2 separate regions of the Homo sapiens genome follow, and region 1 is linked to region 2. Evidence: fine-mapped expression QTL. A gene starts in region 2. The other region holds a variant in brackets. All regions are shown on one strand. Distances are between the middles of the regions. Region 1 overlaps ZNF274 (zinc finger protein 274). Region 2 holds the start of ZSCAN18 (zinc finger and SCAN domain containing 18).

The links. PIP is the estimated chance that this variant, and not a neighbour inherited with it, causes the effect.
Region 1: its variant is fine-mapped to the expression of ZSCAN18 in whole blood (INTERVAL, PIP 0.99).

Annotation. Positions count from the first base shown.
Region 1 is chr19:58,210,297-58,213,203 of GRCh38, reverse strand. ZNF274 (zinc finger protein 274) reads right to left here. Exons shown (of 8, transcript NM_133502.3): 7 at 1,518-1,644; 8 at 1-1,043. The coding sequence ends at 61. Among named protein-coding and RNA genes, the nearest start is that of ZNF544, 17 kb to the left of the region's middle. The variant GA/A (reference allele first, on the strand shown) is at 1,249.
Region 2 is chr19:58,096,503-58,099,409 of GRCh38, reverse strand. ZSCAN18 (zinc finger and SCAN domain containing 18) reads left to right here and starts at 1,179. Exons shown (of 7, transcript NM_001145543.2): 1 at 1,179-1,236.

The DNA of each region.
Region 1 (2,907 bases), 110 kb before region 2:
GTGCATGTTATATTGCAGGGTCAAGCTGAAAAGGCAAGGTTTCTTCAACTGGCTTGAGAGCTATGAGGTAGGCTGTTTCTTCTTTCGCTTTGTCCTATTGTGGGTTCTCTGGTGCCCAATAAGGTGTGAGCTCTGGGTGAAGGCCTTTCCACATTTGTTGCATGCATATGGGCGCTCCCCGGTGTGAGTCCTCTGATGTCTGATGAGGTGGGAGCTCTGGCGGAAGGCTTTTCCACAGTCCTGACACTTGTAGGGCTTAGCGCCAGTGTGAGTCCTCAGGTGCTGGGAGATGGCTGAGCGATCATTGAAGGTCCTCCCACACTCCTGACATTCAAATGGTCTCTCTCCAGAATGAACTCTCTGATGCTGTGTGAGGGAAGAGCTCTGAACAAATCCTTTCCCACAGTCTTGACACACATAGGGCCTCTCTCCGGTATGGATTTTCTTATGCACAGAAAAGTATCTTGGGTTCCGGAATATTTTACCACATTCACTGCATCGGCAAACTTGGCTCCCCTTGTGAATTCTTATAAACGTAATCTGTTTAGTACTCCGACTGAAGGTTTTCCTACAACCATTGCCTTCCTTGGCCTTTTGCCTTTCACAGCTCTTCTGATGAATTTTTACACGTGAATTATGTTTCATACTTTTAACTTGTGAGTCACGTTTGCGCAATCGTTTTCTAGGAGGAATTTTGTGGAGCAAAACTTGGTTTGTGTCAAGAGCGCCACTGTTTGCCTGGGACTCAGGGTTGTCAATTTTCTGGAGCGAAACTTGGTTTGTGTCAAGAGCACCACTGTTTGCCTGGGACTCACGGTTGTCAAAGTGCTTCTTCTGAGGAAGGTCTTTTTCCTGAGCAGACTCCATCTGCTTCAACACTGTGTCTTGGACTTCCTGGACCCCACCCTGCAAGGTATCTTCTAATGTAGAGGACAAGGCACAATCCCTTGAGGATTCTTGTACTTTCAGGCTGGGGGCTGGTTCTTCCTCAGGAATGTCAGAATTTGGAGCTAACTCTTTATTTTCCAGTGTAGTCTCCCACCCTGAAAAAAATAAACAAAAGATGTGGATCCCATAGAGAGATGTGCTGGGATGGGTCTGAGAGCATGAAATGCATAATTAAGTTCAAAAGTCAGGATTTTTTTTTTCTCCCAAATAGAGTCATGCAACCTGGAGAGAGACTGAAAAGCAATGAAGCGGCAGGGAGGGGAGCACTGACCTTGGTGAACAAGGGACAGGAAGGGCAGG[GA/A]GTGTCCTCCGAGCTCTTCGAGTTCCTGTTCTCTCATACTCCCTCAGGAGATAGATAGCAAATCACTCCTTCACCGGACCTAAGGCTGCTTCTGGCCACCCAGTGACCTCACCCCTCTAGGTCTACAGTTCCACTTACAGGCCCTGGATGCAGCAAGGGCCCCTTGAGGGAATGCCCAGTGTGGAGTCTAGAGAAGGTGAACACCCCTGACTTGGGGCTCCTGTGGCCTACCAGCCCTGAGGTGGGTGAAGAGGGGGCACAGCCTTACCCACAGAGACCAGGTGCCCAAAGGTCTCCAGCATCACATCGCGGTACTCGGTCCTCTGTGTCGGGCCCAGCAGCCCCCACTCCTCCCGGCTGAAGTCCACAGCCACATCCTGGAAGGTCACTGGCTCCTGTAACATCACATATGTGTCTATGCTCAGCAAGAGGGTCAGAGGGTTGTCAATGAGGGCAGAAGAAAGGCCAGCTGGGAGGTTCTGACAGAGCTCACGGTGCTAGGGACTCTCCTGCTTTGGGGATTTGCTCAGAGACACCAACCCAGGGCCCACAAGAGTTCTACTGGGTCCAAACCAGGGTCTGGGTCTCAGGCTGGGAGGCAGAGCCCTTGCTTCATAAAGAGCTCCAAGTGCAACAAGCAAACAACTCCATCCTAACCACGGCTCTATCCAGCTTGCCCATTGCTGAAATCTTCCCACTGCAGAGGGTTCTCCATCTATTAATACTGTCTTCCCACTTGGTGGAAATGACAACCAAGCCCCTGCCTTTGTCGACAGGGCTGACCTGGGGGAGGGCAGTCACCCTGGCACAGCCATGACTGGTCCTTTCTGGGGAACTGACCAGGACTTTGGGAAGAAGAGGTACCCCCAACGCTGCTTTGCCAGGATCTGAGGCATTTTGCTTACATGGGGCAGAATCTGCCTAAGAAGAAAGGGGAGTGGCCACGCGCAGTGGCTCACACCTATAATCCCAGCACATTGGGAGGCCAAGGCGGGTGGATCACCTGAGGTCAGGAGTTCGAGACCAGCCTGGCCAACATGGTGAAACCCCGTCTCTATTAAAAATACCAAAAATTAGCCGGGTGTAGTGGCAGCTGTCTGTAATCCCAGCTACTCAGGAGGCTGAGACAGGAGAATCACTTGAACCTGGGAGGCAGAGGTTGCAGTGAGCTGAGATCGCGCCATTGCACTCCAGCCTGGGCAACAAGAGTGAAACTCCATCTCAAAAAAAAAGAAGAAGAAAGGGGAGAAAGCAGAGCCATGAAACAGGTTGGCCAGAGATTCTTCCCATCACCTGGGAGCACCTGGATGCAGCCTTGCCTGAAGCCTACCAGAGAATACATGAGAGCCAATAAATTGACTTCTACGCTTGAGCCAGTATAAGCCATTTGCAGTGCAAACAGGTCTGACCAATGACACATACATACCACTACCCCAGTGGTCAGCGCATCAGGACCAATCTTTTTCACCCACACCCCAGCTCTGGGTTATTCTGAAGCAAATCCCAGATACCAAAGATAAATACCTAAGTATGCATTTCTGAAGGTTGAGGGCTCTCTTGTTCTGACCTGGATACAGATGTGCCTGCCTGTGGTAGTTCCACCTCTCAAGTCTCTGTAAACACTTAGTCCCTTCCCTCTTGCCTCCTGCTTTCTCAGC
Region 2 (2,907 bases):
ATGCCTCTCAAAGGAATTATGTTCAGTGAAAAAGCCAATCTGAAGAGGCCACATACTGTATGATCCCACTTATATGACACTGTGAAGGCAAAATTGTAGCAGTGGACTACTTAGATTAGCTGTTCCTGGGGTTATGGGTGGGGAGGGAGTGACTACCAAGAGGCAGCAGGAGGATTTTTGGGCAGTGGAGCTATTCTTTGTCCCGAGTTTGTTGGTGGATATGAGTTAAAATTCATAAAACTGAATACCAAAATGTGTGGTGTATGTAAATTTAAAATATATAAACTGTTCAGATATACATTTTAAAAATCAGTTCACACAAAAACGACCAAAATGGCATCCTCATAAGCGCCTCTATCTGGAAAACTGAAATGGGAAGCAGCTCCTGGCCCTATCCTGCCTTCCAGGGGGGCTACATTTATATGGGGCTTTGCCAAAGCCCTCACCCCAGCTGCCACTCACATTTCCCTCATTTCAGCAGCTCCTGAATCCCTGGGGTGGGTAATCTTTGAGTTCTATCCACTCCTTGAAACTGTAGAACCCATTTTAGCGCATCAGTGTCTCTGGGTCTCCACCTCTTGTCTCCCCAGTACTGGGTCTGCTGGTCCCTGTCTCTGTATCTCTGTCCAGATCTGTCTCAGCCTCGAGTGCTCCTTTTCTCTGGGTCTCTCTCTTTTCCTGAGCCTGAGCTGGTCTCTTTCTTTTCTTGAGCCCATGCTGGTCTTTCCCTTTCTTGATCCTGGGCTGGTCTCCCTCCTTTCTTAACCGTGAGCTGGTCTCTCCCTTTCCGTGTCCGACTCTGTACATCTCTGTTTCGGGGACCCCAGGGCGTCTTGGTCTGCCCCCGAGCGTCTGTGGGCCTTCATGCTTCTCTCCCTCCCGGTCTGCGCGTCTTTTTGTCTTTGTTTCTCCGTTTCTCACCGTCTTTGTTTCTCCGGGTCTCTGGCTGTCAGGGGTCTATTATTTACCCGCTTGTTTACTTCGTTGCCATGGTGCCCAAAATGACGCAGGCGCCGGAGTGGGCGGGACGCCGGGAGGCCACACTCGCGTCTGATTGGCCATGCGCACTGTCACCTGTCACGGCTCCCTTGCTCGCCCCGGTGCGCGGCACAGCCTCGCGGCATTGTGGGAGTCGTAGTCCGCGGTGAGGCCCAGTGCGCAGGCGCAGTTTGCCGGCCGCCATCGCGCACTGGGGCTCCGGGCGGCTGGGACCGGCCTGGGGTAGCTGCGCAGCAGGTGGGTCGGTCCCGGGGATGCAGCGCGGGGGTCAGAGAGCGACCCCAACAGGGTAGACGGTGAGGACGCCTCAGTGGGCAGCGTTAGGGAAAGGGGCCAGGGTGTTCCCGGGGTTGGGGTGCGAGCCCCCGCTGTGCGTCCAGGAGGCCGAGGGTCTGGCATCCCTTCGCGTGGAGTGCGGGGCAGGGGCCGGGTCCCCCCGGAGGTGGCTGAGATCCAGATCGGTGAGGGGCCCTGCAGGCAGGTAGGGAACTAGTGCAACCCCCACCCCGTGTAGGCTCGTGGAGGGGAGGCGCTTAGGGCACCCTGTGGGTGGGAGAACAGGAAGGGGCGGCTCCTGATGGGGGAGAGATGAGGGAGGGGGAGGCTCCTGATGGGGGAGAAAGGGGGGAGGGGAAGGCTCCTGAGGGGGGCGAAAAGGGGGAGGGGGAGGCTCCTGAGTGGGGAAGAGAAGGGAGGGGGAGGCTCCTGAAGGGAAGAGGAGGGGAGGAAGTGGGGGCTGAGGGTGTGAGGATGTGAGGGTGTCCGTGGTGGGGGGACGCTGGGCAGGCTGTGGCCCCAGGGGCTGGAGCAGGGAAGGGATGGAGGGTGCGGGGACCAAAGGGGTGCCTAGAATGGGCATTGTCTCTGCTGCCCCCACCCTTGGAATATCTCGCCTCTCCCCAGTCACCTGGGGGTGGGTTCTGTTTGAGTTAGGTGTCTGCGCCCACCCCGGAGACCTCTCTCGTGGAAGAGGCAAGAGTGGGTGTACTGGCTTCGGTCCTGACCCAGGGGGTTGGGGTGGGGGCCTGACTCACCCTCCCATCACTCCTTCCCCATTTCCTTTCTCTCACCCTCCTGGGCTCCTTCCTTTTCCCAATCCCCCTCTACCCCCGTCCAGACTATCTGGCTTTCCCTGCTCTTGCTCCTTCCTCTCCTGTCTTCTCTCTCCCTGCTACCTTCCCTCCCCGCTTCCCCCATTTCTGTCTGCCCTCCTTCCACTTTCCCATATATTCGCCTGTGTCCTTGCTGACTCCTGGGCGAGGCTGAGTGGCACAGTCACTTGGTTCCATGTCACCTCCTCGGTTCCATTTCACTTCCCCCATCCCATCATGTCCTGCGGATGGTTTCCTGCCCTGGAGTCAGAGCGGGACCACGTGTCGCATCGAGTTGCTGTTTTCTGTGCATGATGCTTGAATCTGTGACTTCCTGGGTATTTCTGGCCTCGGGTTTTCGGGGAGCCTAGGCCAGTTGCGCAGGACATCTCTCTGGTTCTGTCTGTCCTGGCGAGTGGATCAGGGACCACAAAAGGCAGCTGAGATGTGAACGACGACCCTTACTCCATGTTTTTTCATTCTTTTAAAAGCACTTTTACCCCTTTTTATAATGAGTAAGTGATCTGTGGATGAAGCCAGGGCAGACCCTGGGAATATCCGGCGACCCATCAACAACCACATCCCATGCATTGAGCTTCCCTGGCTGATCCTCAGGCCTGTGGCTGTGGGGTGGTTTGCTAGACCCTGCCGATGAGTGTGGTGGGATGGAGAGCTGCGATGAATATTCCTCAGGTGGCCAGGGCTGGGCCCACGGAGGGCCAAACCAGGCTTGAGCTCTGCTCAGCCCAGGATGAAGGGGATTTGCTGCAGGACTCTGGAGACCCACCAGGCTTGGGACCCCTCAGCTCAGCCACCC